5 linked regions of the Homo sapiens genome follow. The protein of the gene in region 1 purifies or fractionates together with the protein of each later gene. This does not show direct contact. Each region holds a gene or a part of one and is shown in the gene's direction. Other genes may lie near its edges.

Region 1 (2,672 bases):
CAAAGAAAAGGAATGGTGCCAGCCAAAATGTGGATACCTGTAATTTTTTGAAACCATGTTAGGAGACTAACTTAGACCCCCCACGGTGGTCCTCATAATGTGAGTATCGAAGTTTCCTGCAGAGGCTGAAATTTTAGTTTGTGAACAAAAGCTCAGTAATGTAGCAGAAAAAACTCTCAATCAAGATCCCACTTTTCTACTTGGTTTAGTCAGGCTTTGGGGCTTTTATGTGTTTTAGCTTATTTGCTCTAAAGGTTAATAATGCTCGCTCTGTTTAGTTTCCAGAGATAATGTTAGGGATCAAATTATTTCTTTTATGTCAAGAGGCAAAATTGTGTTGAGATACTTGGCTGAAATGTTTTTTTGTAGTTTGAGTTTTGTTTCATTATAATAATATTCGTTTTTAGTTGACCAAATTATGATTGTATTGCTATTTCCTTGCTTATTAGAAATATGTTATTACATTTTTATGTCCATCGATTTACAGGCAATTCGATCACAAATGAAACTGGGTGATTACTTTTATATAGCAAGAATTCTGCTTTCTGAGTCAGTGAGGTTTAATATTAACAAATGTTTTTTCAGTTTAGGGTTCTATATGATGATCATATTCTCTAGGGTAAAAAGTGTGGAAAAAGGTGGCTGGCCTTGAGAAATATACAATTGCTGTGCTGGTTCTTTCAGAGTTGAAATGGAGTAACAAAATCAGAAATCACCAAACGGTTTCTAATTTCAAAGACAGACTGTCTGACCTTGCCTACATAGTTCAGGTAGAAACCAAGAAGGAACATGGAGAAGGAAATTGAGTTCCCGTCCAGGTGACATACAACCACAACCACCTCCAGTAATACATCTGGAATTACAACATGGGCTGTTCACCTTAGGGCACAACAAGCTCTCACCTAGGAATGTGTTTCTCCTGTATTTTTATTCTTATTTGAAAAAGTTCTGATTAAACTTCTACACTACACCACACACACACACACACACACACACACACACACACACACAACTCCCCATCCCCATCCCCGTTCATTCTTGGTTCTGTATCTTCTTGAAGTAGAGCATACAATGTAACTTAAAAAAGAGTTATTTCTGATATATATTCAATTTGGCTGTTTTGAACAAGTCTTCTCTTGAAGCCATTAAGGGGATTTTCCATGTACCTCAAAATATCACTATTTTGAATTTTTTGCTCCATGTTTCACACCCCAGATGAAGAAAACCTACATAGATTAAGGGCTTCCAGTGTGTCCGGCATTGTCAGATGTGTCAGCAATGACCTCCCAGCTGCCTCATTCACTGGATGATTTTTCATCCTCAATGTAGTAATTTTTGTGCTCTGGCTGGCCCTTCTGTTGGTAAGGAGGCAGGACTGTTGTGGCTTTGGTGACCTGTTCAGTCTGCCAGTGTCTGCTCGATGGAAATTTGGGGGCATTTTTTTGAAGTTGTATAAAATTAAACATCAGCAATTTAGCTGTGCATATTTGTATTTAGAGGTGAAATAGCTTCAGTCTATGGCTGGGAAAAGGAATTGGAAGTGTGACTGCGTGTTGTGACCACAGGCATGCTTTGTCTCCCAGTGTGGTAAAATAGGATTCAGAGCATTCCAGGTTGATTTGTAATGTTGCCCTGACAAGGAAATCATTGCCTGGGAATATTTTTGTTCGCCCGATTAAGGGAGGTTCCTAGTTCTATAACAATTGCTGTGTCAGTTTTGAGAAGCTTAACATTAATATGTCTTTTTTTTTTTTTTTTGCCTTTGCTTTCTTCTTTTTTTTGGCAAGTGACTCTTCAAAATGTAGTATGTAAGGGAGGGAAAGTATTAAACATTGAGGATCTCTTAATTCAGAAAAGATGGCCAAGCCATTTTCAGCACAAAGAGAAATGAGAAGCACGAGAGTCTTGATCATTAGAGCAAGGAGTCATCACGTGGCTGCCATCCTCTGAGCGTAGATCCAGATCACTTCCTAGCTGCATGATGTGGGTCAGAATTTCACTAGCCTGAGCCTCGGTTTCCCAGCCTGTAAATTGTGGGTTTTAGCATTTTGAGACTTAGAGAGAGATGACGAATGTAAAAGACCTGGGACAACTCCTGTGCTCTGTAAATGGTGGCAGTTAGAGGCACCTTCTGCAGGTATGCTTTCAGTTGTTAGTGAGTTCCTGGAATTTGAGGTACAGCATTTAGGATCAGGGGCAGTAGAATCAAGCTTTGTGCCTATTGGCATCTAAAGGGTCAGGGATGGGCTAAGCCTTTGAGCAGAGCTGTGGTTGCAGCCTCACCCCCATGCCTCCCTACCTCTCTTCCTCCCCTCCCCTGCCTTGAGGGTCCTCCTTTGCTTCAGAGGCACAGTCCAGCCTTGGTGCAGCTCCTCCAGGGACCTTCATCGGCTCCTGTGGCCCTGGCTGCTCCTCCTCCATTGACCCACCTCCTACTGGAAGATGGGATGAAATGAGGTGTGGCAAGGCCACCATGTCCCCAAAGATGGAGCCTTCTGGGAAGAGTTTTCCTTTCATTCCTGCCAAGCCTTGCTTACTGCCTTCTCTAGCAACCAAAGATCCTTGTCAGGAGGGCAAAGGCCACAAGCATTTGTGTCATTGGAATGTCTGCACGTGTGTATATCCATCTAAATAATAGAGGCTTTGAAGAAAATGTGGCGAGGGTTACAATG
Region 2 (2,526 bases), on another chromosome or scaffold:
TCAACGGGACGTAAGGGACCCAACCCTCACCCTTGCCCCATCTTCTGGTCAGCCATGCCTCTGGCTCCAAACAGAATCAGTGCCCATAGTTTCTTATTATTTTATTTATTTATTTATTTATTTTTGAGACGGAGTCTTGCTCTGTCGCCCAGGCTGGAGTGCAGTGGCGCGATCTCAGCTCACTGCAAGCTCCGCCTCCCGGGTTCATGCCATTCTCCTGCCTCAGCCTCCCGAGTAGCTGGGACTACAGGCGCCCACGACCACGCCCGGCTAAGTTTTTGTATTTTTAGTAGAGACGGGGTTTCACCGTGTTAGCCAGGATGGTCTCAATCTCCTGACCTCATGATCTGCCCGCCTCGGCCTCCCAAAGTGCTGGGATTACAGGTGTGAGCCACGGCGCCCGGCCATCGGTGCCTATAGTTTCTTGCATGATTCATGTTCCCTGCACTCCTGTACTGTTGAGATTTCTAGGCAGCCTTGACTTAAAACAAGTAAAATCTGTTCTCTCCACCTGTTCCCATCTGAGTCCTTCCTGCTTTTTTAAACATCCCCACACCCTTGAACTGATTCTTGAAATGTTCTTCCCCCTCACAACTCTTGTTCTTCTTAACAAGGGGCCCAGGATGTATGCAGTTATTGAGATGTGACACAAGTTGTACAGAGGAGAGCAGGCTTATCACCTCCCTCTTTCTAGGCTTAATATCACCGTTGATGCAGTCTTAGGATCACCTGCTTTTTGTAGGTGGTTACATCTCACTTGTGGGCTTGTAATCTGGGGTTGGGCCTTGAGAGGTGCCACCTATCCCTGATAATAATTTATTCAACAATTTTTTACTGAACATCTACTATATGCTGGTGTGCTGATACAGAGAACAACAAGAATGGCACATCCTCTGGCCCTCAAAAAATTTGCGTAGTCTGGGGCTCACGCCTGTAATCCCAGCACTTTGGGAGGCCGAAGTGGGCGGATCACCTGAGGTCAGGAGTTCATGACCAGCCTGACCACCACGGAGAAACCCCGTCTCTACTAAAAATACAAAATTAGCCGGGCATGGTGGCGCATGCCTGTAATCCCAGCTACTCAAGAGGCTGAGGCAGGAGAATCACTTGAACCTGGGAGGTGGAGGTTGTAGTGAGCCGAGATCACGCCACTGCACTCCAGCCTGAGCAACAAGAGCGAAACTCCATCTAAAAAAAGAAAAATTACATAGTTTGATGGAGAGACAGACAAAGTAACAGGTATTCACAACGTATTGTGATCAGGATTGGGACTGGGATGCACAAGGGGCTCTGGGAGTCCCAGTGAGGTACTCGATTCAGCCTGCAGGAGTCTGGAGACATCTAAATTGAGCTGTAATGGATGCAAGTGGAAAAAAGGGGGAAGGAGAGGGATGAGGTGAGCAAGAGTGTTCCAGGCAGAAGGAATCATGCATACAAAGGCCCCCCAACACAGCAGGTTCCGGGAAAGTAGAATAAGAGAGGCCACGGTGTTGAGTGTGAATGGGATGTTGAGAGATAAGGCTAGAGATGCTTTGTTAAGGGTCCTGTGAGCAGGGTAAAGAGTTTGGATTCATCCCAAGGGCTCTGGGGAGCTAAAGAGGAATGTAGGCAGGCAGAGTGCATGGTCAGATGCTGGCTGGAGGCAGGGTGACTGGAAGCAGACCGTCCACATCTCAACCTTGGTCTCCCGGCAGGTGGGTTGGCTATGAGTTCCCCGGCTACCGTGGGCGCCAGTACGTGTTTGAGCGGGGCGAGTACCGCCACTGGAATGAGTGGGACGCCAGCCAGCCGCAGCTGCAGTCTGTGCGCCGCATCCGTGACCAGAAGTGGCACAAGCGGGGCCGCTTCCCCAGCAGCTGAAAGGCACCCAGACTTCAAGGACCCAGACCCACCCTGGGGGGCTGCAAGGGCAAGAAGAGGAGGCTCCAGGGTTGGGGCGAGGGCCGACCTGTCCACCCTTCCCTGGAATCTGCTCAATAAAGCCTGGGGTTGGTCCCCCACCCGCCACGTTCCTCGGCATCACTTCCTGAGGGAGCCAGGCCTGGGGCGGGACCTGTGGGAGAGGCGTGCTGAAGGAGGCTGGGGCTTGAGTGTTCTGAGACTCCCAGGAAGGGGCTGGGAAATTTGCCCATATCCTAGGCTCTAATCCTTTCAGGCAGAGCCATGTGCCCCTACTGCCCTGATCTTGTGTTTGTCTGCTGCTGCATGTTTCCATCTGAATGTCTGTCAGTCTGCCCATCCACTCACCCATCCATCCATCATCCTTCCACCCACCCACCCACCCATTCATCCACCCATTCACCCACTCATGTGCCCATCCATTCGTCTACTCACCCATCCATCCATCCATCCACCCACCCATTCATCCACCCATTCACCCACCCATGTGCCCATCCATTCATCTACTCACCCATCCATCCATCCACCCACCCACCCATCTACCCATTCATTCATCCATCCAACTACCTACCACCCATTCATCCATCCATGCATCCATCCATCCATCCATTCATCCACCCACTTACC
Region 3 (3,525 bases), about 27 Mb from region 1:
ATAGAATGGGGAAAAAAGCCAACAAAGATTCAACCTAATAAGGAAAGACATCTTGGAATCCAGAGGGATTACTTGGGTGAAGGAGAATTAGAGTCCAGAGTCAGGTACAAATGCAAAGAAAACAGAAATCTTAGGATTACAGAAAAGAAGATGACTCAACAAAAATTGGACTACTAAGTCCTGTATATCTATATTTATATCTATATATGTCTATCCATCTATCTATCTAAGCTGTTTATATATATGCACACACACAAAGGAACTTTTAGTAATGCTGATAATTTGTTCATTTAATACAAATATGTTCATGAATTATACATTTTAATAGTATTACAGCCTGAATAGGCAAACATGAACAAAACAATTGCATCTGTTCTTCAGGCACTCACTTTCAATTAAAGACGCATATAAGATGAAAGAAAAGGGACAGAAACTGATATTCCATGCAAATGGTAACCAAAACAAAGCAGGGGTTGCTAAATTTATATCAGACAAATTAGATTTTAAGTCAAAAACTATCTCTTGAGACAAAAAAAAAAAAGATCATTACATAGTAAAGGAGTCAATTCACCAGGAAGATATGACAATTAGTATGACTCTATCAGAGCACCTAAATTATAAAGCAAATATTGACAGATCTGAAGTAGGAAATTGACAGCCATAAAATAATTTATGGGACTTTAATATCCCACTTACAATAATGAATAGACTATCTAGACAGAAAATCAATAAAGAAACCTCTGACTTAAACAACACTGTAGACCAGTGGACCTGACAGACATATACAGAACTTTGCACCCAACAGCAGAAGAATTCACATTCTTCTCAAGTGCCCATGGGATGCACTCTGAGATAAATCATCTTAGGTCACAAAACAAGTCTTAACAACTTTAAGAAGATTGAAATTATTCCAAGTGTCTTTTCCAACCTCCATGGAATAGAAATAGAAATCAATAACAGCAGGAAAACAGGAAAAATTATAAATATGTGGAAACTAAACGATATAGTTTGAATAAACCTCCAGGCCAAATCTCATGTCAATTGTAACCCTCCATGCTGAAATTGAAGCCTGGTCAGAGATGTTTGGGTCATGGGGACTGATCCCTCATGGCTTGGTGCTGTCCTTGTGATAGTGAGTTCTTGCAAAATGTGGTTGTTTTAAGTGTGTAGCACCTGCTCCTCCTTGCTCCTATATTTGCCGTTTGAAGTACCTGATCCCATTTCACCTTGCACCATGAGTAAAAGCTCCCTGATATATGCTCAGAAGCCAAGCAGATGTCAGCACCATGCTTGTATAGTCTGCAGAACCACGAGCCAATTAAACCTCTTTTCTTTATAAATTACCCAGTCTCAGGTATGTCTTTATAGCAATGAAAGAATGGACTAATACACTGAACAACACACTCTTGAGCAATTATTGGGTCAAATAGGAAATCAAAGGGAATTTTAAGAGCTATTTTGAGACAAAAAAAAAATGGCATAACAAAACTTATGGGATGCAGCAAAAGCATTGCTAGGAGAGAAGTTTATAGCAATAAATGCTTATGCTATGAAAGAAGAAAGACTTCAAATAAACAACCTAGCTTTACCCTTTCAGAAAGTGGCAAAAGAAAAACACTTTAAGCCTAAGCCTAAAATTAGCAGAACGAGGGAAATAATTAAGATTATAATAGAAATACATTAAATAGAGTTGAAAAAGACAATGAGAAAAATCAATAAAATTAAGATTTTGCGTATAGAAAAGATAAAATCAATAAACCATTAGCTAGACTAAGCAAAAAAGAAAAGGCTCAAATAAATAAAATCAGAAATAAAAGAGAAGAAATTACAATGGGTACCTCAGAAATTAAAGAAGACATGAGACTACTATGAACAATTATATGCCAACAAATTTGATAACCTAGAAAAATAGATAAATTCCTAGAAACATACAATCTATGAAACTTGAATCAAAAAGAAATTCGAAGTCCAAACAGACAAGTAACAAATAAGGAAATTGAATCAGTAGTCAAAACCTTCCAACAAAGAAATGTCCAAGACCATATGGCTTCATGGGTAAATTATACCAGACATTTAAAGAAGAATTAATACTCGTCCTTCTCAAATTATTCTGACAAATAGAAGAAGAAGCACTTTAAAACTCATTTTATGAGGCTAGTGTTATCCTGATACCAAAGCCAGACGAAGGAAAGCAAACCGCAGGCCAATACTCCTGATGAACATGATACAAAAGTCCTCAATAAAATGCTAGTTACCCAAATTCAGCAGCATATTAAAATGATGATACACCATGATTAAGTGGGATTTGTCCCTGGAATGCAAATATCTTTCAACACATGCAAATCAATGCAATAGAACACATTAATAGGTTGAAAGAAAAAAAGCCACAAGATCATTTCAGTAGACACAGAAAAAGCATTTGACAGTGCTATCCACATAGACAAATGAGGTTGCATCAAACTAAAATGCTTCTGCACAGCCAAGTAGATAATCATCAGAGTGAAAAGGAACTTTAATAATGGGACAAAATATTTATAAACCATATATGTATATACATATATATATGAGTTAATATCCAAAATTTATAAGGAGTGCATGTAAGTTAATAGCCAAAAATCTCACATAATCTGATTTTAAAATGGGCACATGACCCCTGTACTCTGTTGGTGGGAATGTAAGTTGGCACAGCTGTTATGGAAAGCAGTACAGAAATTCCTCAATAAATTAAAAATATAATTACCTTATGATTTAGCAGTTTTGCTGCTGGATATATATCCAAAGGAAACCATTATTACATAGAGAGATCTGCACTCCCATGTTCACTGCAGCATTATTCATATTAATCAAGCTGTGGAAATAACCTAAATGTGCATTGACAGATGTATTAGTCCGTTTTCATACTGCTTGGAAGAAATATCGGAGACTGGGTAATTTATAAAGAAAAAGAGGTTTAATGGACTCACAATTCTGCATGGCTAGGGAGGCCTCACAATCATGGCAGTAGGCAAAGGAGGAGCAAAGGCACATCTTACATGATGGCAGGCAAGAGAGCATGTGTAGGGGAACCACCCTTTATAAAACCATCAGATTTCATGAGACTTATTCAATATCATAAGAACAGCATGGGAAAAACTTGCCCCTGTGTTTCAATTACCTCCCACCAGGTTCCTTCCATGATACCTGAGGATTAAGGGAGCTACAATTCAAGATGAGATTTAGGTGGGGGCACAGCCAAACCATATCAACAGATAAATGAATTTGAAAAGTATGATATATATATATATATATATATATATATATGTACATATAATATATATAATTACATGTATGATATACTATTGAATATTATTCAGCCTTAAAAAAAAGAAAATCTGGACATTTGCAACAACATGGATGAACATGGAGGAATTTATGTTATTTGAAACAATCCAAACATAGAAAGACAGATATTGCATTATCTCACTTATATATGGAATCTAAATAGTCAAGCTTATAGTAGTGAATAGAGTAGGGGTTAACAGGGGC
Region 4 (3,374 bases), on another chromosome or scaffold:
ACCCTGTGGGCTCAGCCGAGTCTGCGTATTATCATCCTGGGCCAGGCACAGGCCAGCGTTGGGGAGGTGCTTTGTGAGAGTTTGAGTAAGGGAAGAGCGAGGGCAAGGGTCAGCAAATTTAAACAGTAAAGATTTTAGGCTTTGTGGACCATACAGCCTCTGTCAACCTGTCGCTGGACCCAGAAGGCAGCCAGAGACCATACGGAAGCCAGCAGGCGTGTCCATAAAACCTTATTTACACAAAGGGGCAGCCGGCCGTAGTTTGCTAACCCTTGGTCTAGAGAAACAACAGAATACATTCGATGGCAAACAAGTGATTTTAAGGCCAAGGCTTTCTTGAGAAGGGCCATGGCTTCCAGGAAATTGCTGGTAACAGAGTAGGAAAAGGGTTCAGAAATGAGCCCCCAGGTGAACCTCGGCAGATGTGACTTTGAAGATAAAACTTCTGGAGCCCTGCTGACCACACCCCATGAGGCTTCCTGACACTGGCCATGAGGGCCTTGACTTGGGAGGCGGACAGTATCGGGTGAGGAGTGACAGTGCCCAGGCCATAGGGTCCTCAATCCGGCTTCCTGTCACTCCGATTTAGGGAGAGAGAGGTACCTTGTTTAAAGTTGAACCTTGTCTTCAGGGGATGGGCCACCCAGCAGTGACCCAGGCGAGTTCCACAGCATGTTTTGGGGCTGATCACTTAATGCTGCAGTGGCACAAGTGCCAGTGAAAGAAGCGTTGACAGTGAAGTGATTGGGGCAGCTTCTCGTGGTGCATCCAGGAGGAGGTTCTTGTCACTATGTCCTTTCGGTTCCTATAATATTGAGTTTTCATGGCTCACATGAATTATCCTTATGACCTTTGTAATAATTCCAAACCTAAATGTTTAGCCAGGTAAGAGACTGCTTTTCAGGGGGAGGTGACACATGAGGCCTGACAATGTGAGGGGGTGGGTGACCCTGGGGGCTGTCCATTCCCACTGTGGCTGAGGTAGGAGTTTCTGCTCATTTAATTCAGAGCAGCTAGGCCAGGCAGCCTAAACCAGGACAGCAGGTGCTGCTGCTGGGTGAGGACAGGGATCCCCTAGTCTTTCCTCAGGCTGCCTGAGTTTGGGCATCAGGGCTGGAAGTGGGATGGGACACCAGCAGGCCTCTCCTTTGGCATTCTTGATGGGGACAGAGCCAAGATGCACACTACCCAGTGCTTTAGTGTGCTCACTGCAGCCAGGCCACCTAGGCTCACAGCCTAGGCTTGTCACTGATAAGCTGTGTAACTTTAGGCAAGTTACTTAATCTCACTGTGCCTCAGTTTCTTCATCTGTAAAATGGGGATGATAAAAGCTCCCACGCTGAAGGTTTGTTGAAGTTTTTGGCACACACGAGCGTCCCGTGAAAGTCAGCTGCCAAGAGAAGCCCACAGAGCAGAGGGTCAATGATCAGGGTGAACCGCCCTGAGCCCAGTCCCAGGACCTCCTGCTGGTCCCCCTCATGTTTAAGCTCCACACCCCAATTACATGGAGGACTTAAGAATGTTCCCAGGGTAGCACCAGGTCCAAGGAAAGGGAATGAGCTGCCTGGTTTCTCCAAGGTCAGCAGACAGAAGGGGCCGCACTGTGGAAGAGTTGGACCCCAGCAAGAGGGAGTTCTGGGAGATGGGCCATCTTTCCTGGCCACTTTGCCCAGGCTGCCCCTCTAGCAGCCAGAGCCCTGGACTCCTCAACCCCTTCGTCAGTTTCCCTTTACCCTGCCCCAAAGCCAGAAGCCATGGACGCTTGTGTCAGGCAAAGCAGTTTCCCTTGTTGACACCTGGCACCTGACACAGCCTGTACCTCTTTGGGGACCTTCTGAGGGGCTAGGACCAGACCTCTGGCCCCTGCTCCCCTGTACAGAGCACAGGGTGAGAGGCAGTGTGATCAAGGAACTGTTTGGAAGGTCAGCGCTCATTTTTCCTTGAATAAATGAAAGTCGTGGCTTCCAGGCCATGGAGTGTGGACCCGGGGAGGCCGCAGAGGTATTTGCCTGCAGAGCGCTCCTCCTCACCCTCCAGGGCAGGTGTGGCCTTGTCTCCAGCCTGGTGAGGACAGGCGCTGGTAGCAGGATAATTCCCGGGCTGGACGGAGCATGAGGCGACGAGAGCAGCCTGCTTGGCTGGGCCCCGCTGGGAGTTGGGCCACTAGGCAGCAGGTGGAAATGGCAGTGGCCTGTGTACACCGAGGTAGCATGTATTTTCTGAACCCTCGTATGGGTATGTGGGGATGTGCTTACTTTTTGTTGTGAACCGACAGGTAAAGATCATATACATTCTGAACAAGGCCACGTGATATGGCTCCAAACCAGTCTGTGCCAGGGGTACTCCCCACACACCCCTTCTGCCACCTCAGATGCTCTCCTGCCCTCCTCCCACAGCTCCCGTGCAGCTGGGGAAGCACGGTGGCACTGTGATGGCCTGTCCTGGCTGCTCTGGGCCTGTGGCCCAGACAGACTCCCTGCAGGTGGCCTGCCAGCCCTCCTGCCTGTGTGTGCCACCAGCCCTGAGTGTGTCTCCACTTTGCCACTTGGATGCCCAGTGGGGCATTTCCATCATGGGGGAACCCCTTCCTTCCCCTTGTAGAGGGAAGGCACACCAGCAGCATTTCAGATTTCCATGTTTCAGCCGGGCGCAGGGGCTCACGCCTGTAATCCCAACATTTTGGGAGGCTGAGCCGGGCGGATCACGAGGTCAGGAGATCGAGACCACGGTGAAACCCCGTCTATACTAAAAATACAAAAATATTAGCTGGGCGCAGTGGCGGGTGCCTGTAGTCCCAGCTACTCGGGAGGCTGAGGCAGGAGAATGGCATGAACCCGGGAGGCGGAGCTTGTCGTGAGCCGAGATCGCGCCACTGCACTTCAGCCGGGTCGACAGAACGAGACTCAGTCTTAAAAAAAAAAAAAAAAAAAAAAAAAGAGATTTCCATGTTTCACTGTCTATGAGGAGTCACCATTTTCTGTGAAAATGAGGTCCTATGCTTTATTAAGAAAATTTGATTTTTAAGAAAAATATAAAAATTTTTAAGAAAGTAGGATTTTTTTTTTTTAACTACATGGAGCAAAGAGTGCCAGACAGCATTCTAATGTACAGAAATCCAAAAAGCATCCTGCTCTCCCAGGCCTTCTCCTGGCTCAGAGTGGGGGCAGCTGGGATCACGTGTGCTGGGAAGGGCCTGGTTGGACTTCTTTCTCCCTGATGGTGGCCACCACGAGGCACCTTGGCAGAGAAGGAACAGGGGAAGCTGAGACCAAACACAGAGATGACACAGCTCCTCTGAAGCTAGGCTGGAGGGGGAGAAACTGCCTTGAGGGGTGTTGGGCCTCATAAAAGCCTGTTTGTCTACTGTGCTGTGA
Region 5 (3,525 bases), on another chromosome or scaffold:
CATTTTGTCTATAAGGTCCATCAAATACCATTGTTTTAGCTGTTATCAGTTAGTTGTGTTACCTCTGTGATTGCAGCATTAGATTTGTTAATAGTCACTGTTACAAAGGAAAATGGTTTTGTTTAACTAAAACAAATGAACCCAAGATAACAGTACTGATTAAACATATTTTAAAACCAGACACGTTGTAAGACATAATGTAAGAAAGACCAAAAGTAGTTAGGTACTGAGATTTGCCTTAAAAATATCTGGTGAAAGCATACCACTTTGATTGATGAATGATGTTGACTATTAAAAAATATCTCTTGTACTGATGTTGGGTATATGCATCAAACATATACGTTTTTAGGGATTTTTTTCCCCCTAACCTTTAACAAAAGAAATACATGTTATAGAACATTATGGAAAAGCTAAAAGGAAGAAAATTAAGATAAACTATAATCCTTTTACTCAGAGATAACCATTCTTTGTTTTTTACTGCACACCATGATTCTTCAGAGATAACCATTCTTAATAATAACAGTCTATACTTGTGATTAGTCCTGGTTTCCTAGAAAACAGCACAGACAGGATTAGCTGCTAAGGCTTTGATGGGAGGTGCAGTTTGAGGGCAAGAATGAAGAGAAAAGCTGGTCATAGATTTCTAAAGAAGAGACAGGTGGTTTGCAGTCATGTTAAATAACTCACAGACTTTGTGGACCCACCATACCTTAGAAAGGTCAGATGATAGAGGAATGGATTTGGATTCTGACAAGGATTTGTTTGCAGGCACCTGTCTTTCATTGGTCAAAGTTTTCTACATCTGGCATTGATGCCTCCAAGCTTTTGGATTGTGGTGCTCTGGGAACTAACACCCGGAAGTAGTCAGGGAGTTATAGCCTCCTTTCCATGTTCACAATTCAGGAGTACCTGAATGTACTCCCAAGGTAGCTTGAATCTACCAGAGGTATTAGGAGACTGAGCTTTTCCATTGATTGGCAGCCAAGGCCTGGGTTGAGAAAGGTGAATCTGGGGCCACATATAAACTGTGTTTACCTCAGTACGTTTTTAGTCTTTGTATACATCTTTTTAATATATATTTAAATAAAAATGGGTTCATTTTTAAATAAAAATGGGTTCATTTTTAAATAAAAAATGGGTTCATCATATAACTTACTGGTAATCTGTTATTCTCCTTCAGGATAAATCTTGAAATATCTTTATTAAATATTCAGCATCCTTTAAAATTGCTATATAGTGTTCCACTCTAGCAGTAATTCTTAAAAGGAAATTCTTAAAATTTCAGTTATTTATAGATGGATTGTGGTTTGAAATATTTATTCATTTAATGATAAATTGTCATCTTAAACTTTTATTTAGAAATAGTTTCAAATTTACAGAAAAATTTCCCCAATAAGAACTGTTCAGAGACTACTCATAAACCCTTTACCTAGATTCACCTGTTGTTAACATTTTCCCCACTTGCTGTATCATTTCCACTTTTTACACACCTTTTTCCTTAAAGTTATTTACACCATGGTCCTTTACCTCTGACTTTAATGTGTACTTTCTAAGAGGAGGGATGTTCTCTTTCATAATCACAGTACAATTTACAACTTAAGTAAATTTAATACATAGTAATCTGTCCATTTTCCAGTTATGTTGACTGACCCAGAAGTGTTCTTGATAGCATTTTTCCCCCTCCAGTACAGGATCTAATTTAGGAGCAGGTATTGCATAGTTGTCATGCTTCTTTAGTCTCCTTTAATCTGGATCATTTCCACAGCCTTCCTTTGTCTTTTATAACATTGTTATTTTTGAGAATTAAGACATAAGTGATGTTGTGTCCCTCTCAGGATATCACATCTGGAGGCACATGAGGTCTGTCTGACTCTTATTGATGATATTACTTTTGATCACCCAGTCAAGGTCTAATGTTTCCACTGTGTAGGTATTATTTTTTCCCTTGCAGCTAATAAGTAATATAGGCAGATGCTTTTGGACCATGTAAATCTTGTGCTCCTTTTCAAACTTTGTGCCTGCATTTACCATCTGTTGATGACCCTTGCCTTTATTCTGACGGTCACAAAATGATTTTTCATTTCCAGCACTCCTTTCACATTTACAACTTGGCATTTGGTAATTCTCCTCCTTCCTTACCTACTTATTTATCTTTTTATTATTGGTATGGATGCATGGATTATTCCCCCCACCAATAATTTATAATTTATTTGGCCATTTTGATGCTCAGATTACCCCTAGTTTTAGCTACTGAAAGGCCCCTTCAAGCTGGCTCCTGTGTCTGTCATATGCGTTTTTTTAAAAAGTACATCCTTTCTGGCATGACATGAATGATCTTTTTGAGATTTACTTTGCATTAAAGGTGGTAACTTTGTGGTTAATTTGCTCAGGATATTTCTGGCTCAAGAGTGAGAAGACTGACATAGTTATTTATGAGTCTTAACACTGAAAATTTCACTAAACACACTTAAAAGGATTTGATACCCTTTTACGTATTGAATTGCTTATATTTGAATTTTGTTAGTCAAAAAGTACCTTAAAATTATTTATATTTTTGTGGTTCTGTGAGACTACACATGATAATATAGGGTTGATTTTAAACATGAGAACACTTTAAGGATTTAAAATGATTATTTTAGAACGTTAGCAATATATGAATCTTTAAATTGTTAAACATATATAGTTAAAATAGAATTATATATCCATTGTAATATGATATAAGAGCCAGGTAGTATATTTAGCTATTCCTATTCATTTTAAACTATTGGGTAAGAGCAAACGGATCAACTGTGAAATATCTTTAAAGAAAAAACTATTAGAAGTCTGTACAAAAATTGAATTTATTTGGTGATTATAGTTGTTTTATTGGTTTCTTTTGTTCACTGTTTAATTTCAGATGTTAAGATGTATTAGAAAATTGGATTTTAAAAATATTGAGTATTTTTAAAAAGGTAAACAGTTTTAATTTTATTGGTTTTTATGTAAAATAACTTGTACTTTTTGAAATTTTCCAGTGGGCAGAAATGGATCTGGAAAAAGTAACTTTTTTTATGGTAGGTGTTGCTTTTTGAATTGTAAATATATTAAGACCTGGGTATCTTAGGGTAGATTATTAAAATCATTAATTTTCTGAGGTTATGTATTCATGAAACCCAAGAAATACTTTATATGGGGTTGCAGCTTAGTGTAGAGGGTTTAGAGTATACAGATCTGAATTCTGCTTTATACCCAGTGGCTGATTAGCTGTGTGAGAGTGGGCAAAACACGTAGCCTCTCAAATTTTTCTTTTCACTTTAAAAATGGAGATGTTTGGATGTTTGCCCTGTCTACCTTAGATGGTTTGTAAGAATGGAATGCAATAGTATGTATGAAAATGCTTTTTAAACTTGAATGTAATATATAAATGTTATAAATGCATATTTTAAACGTATGTAAATGCAGTAGAATAGTTGATAGTATTGTTTTGGAAAATTGTTCATCTTTCTTATTTCACCTTTTTGAAAACGTTTTCTAAACCAATCATCT

What was found.
Region 2: the proteins of ARHGEF28 (region 1) and CRYBB3 purify together in Homo sapiens (co-immunoprecipitation; one large-scale study listed by IntAct). This does not show direct contact.
Region 3: the proteins of ARHGEF28 (region 1) and FAM174A purify together in Homo sapiens (co-immunoprecipitation; one large-scale study listed by IntAct). This does not show direct contact.
Region 4: the proteins of ARHGEF28 (region 1) and POC1A purify together in Homo sapiens (co-immunoprecipitation; one large-scale study listed by IntAct). This does not show direct contact.
Region 5: the proteins of ARHGEF28 (region 1) and SMC3 purify together in Homo sapiens (co-immunoprecipitation; one large-scale study listed by IntAct). This does not show direct contact.

The regions. Positions count from the first base shown.
Region 1 is NC_000005.10:73,937,190-73,939,861, forward strand, and holds part of ARHGEF28 (rho guanine nucleotide exchange factor 28), read left to right. Parts: intron 1-2,672. UniProt on the Homo sapiens protein: Functions as a RHOA-specific guanine nucleotide exchange factor regulating signaling pathways downstream of integrins and growth factor receptors. Functions in axonal branching, synapse formation and dendritic morphogenesis.
Region 2 is NC_000022.11:25,205,353-25,207,878, forward strand, and holds the end of CRYBB3 (beta-crystallin B3), read left to right. Parts: coding exon 1-10; intron 11-1,694; coding exon 1,695-1,860; 3' UTR 1,861-2,007; downstream 2,008-2,526. UniProt on the Homo sapiens protein: Crystallins are the dominant structural components of the vertebrate eye lens.
Region 3 is NC_000005.10:100,562,872-100,566,396, forward strand, and holds part of FAM174A (membrane protein FAM174A precursor), read left to right. Parts: intron 1-3,525.
Region 4 is NC_000003.12:52,078,066-52,081,439, reverse strand, and holds part of POC1A (POC1 centriolar protein homolog A), read left to right. Parts: intron 1-3,374.
Region 5 is NC_000010.11:110,570,693-110,574,217, forward strand, and holds part of SMC3 (structural maintenance of chromosomes protein 3), read left to right. Parts: intron 1-3,014; coding exon 3,015-3,053; intron 3,054-3,525. UniProt on the Homo sapiens protein: Central component of cohesin, a complex required for chromosome cohesion during the cell cycle. The cohesin complex may form a large proteinaceous ring within which sister chromatids can be trapped.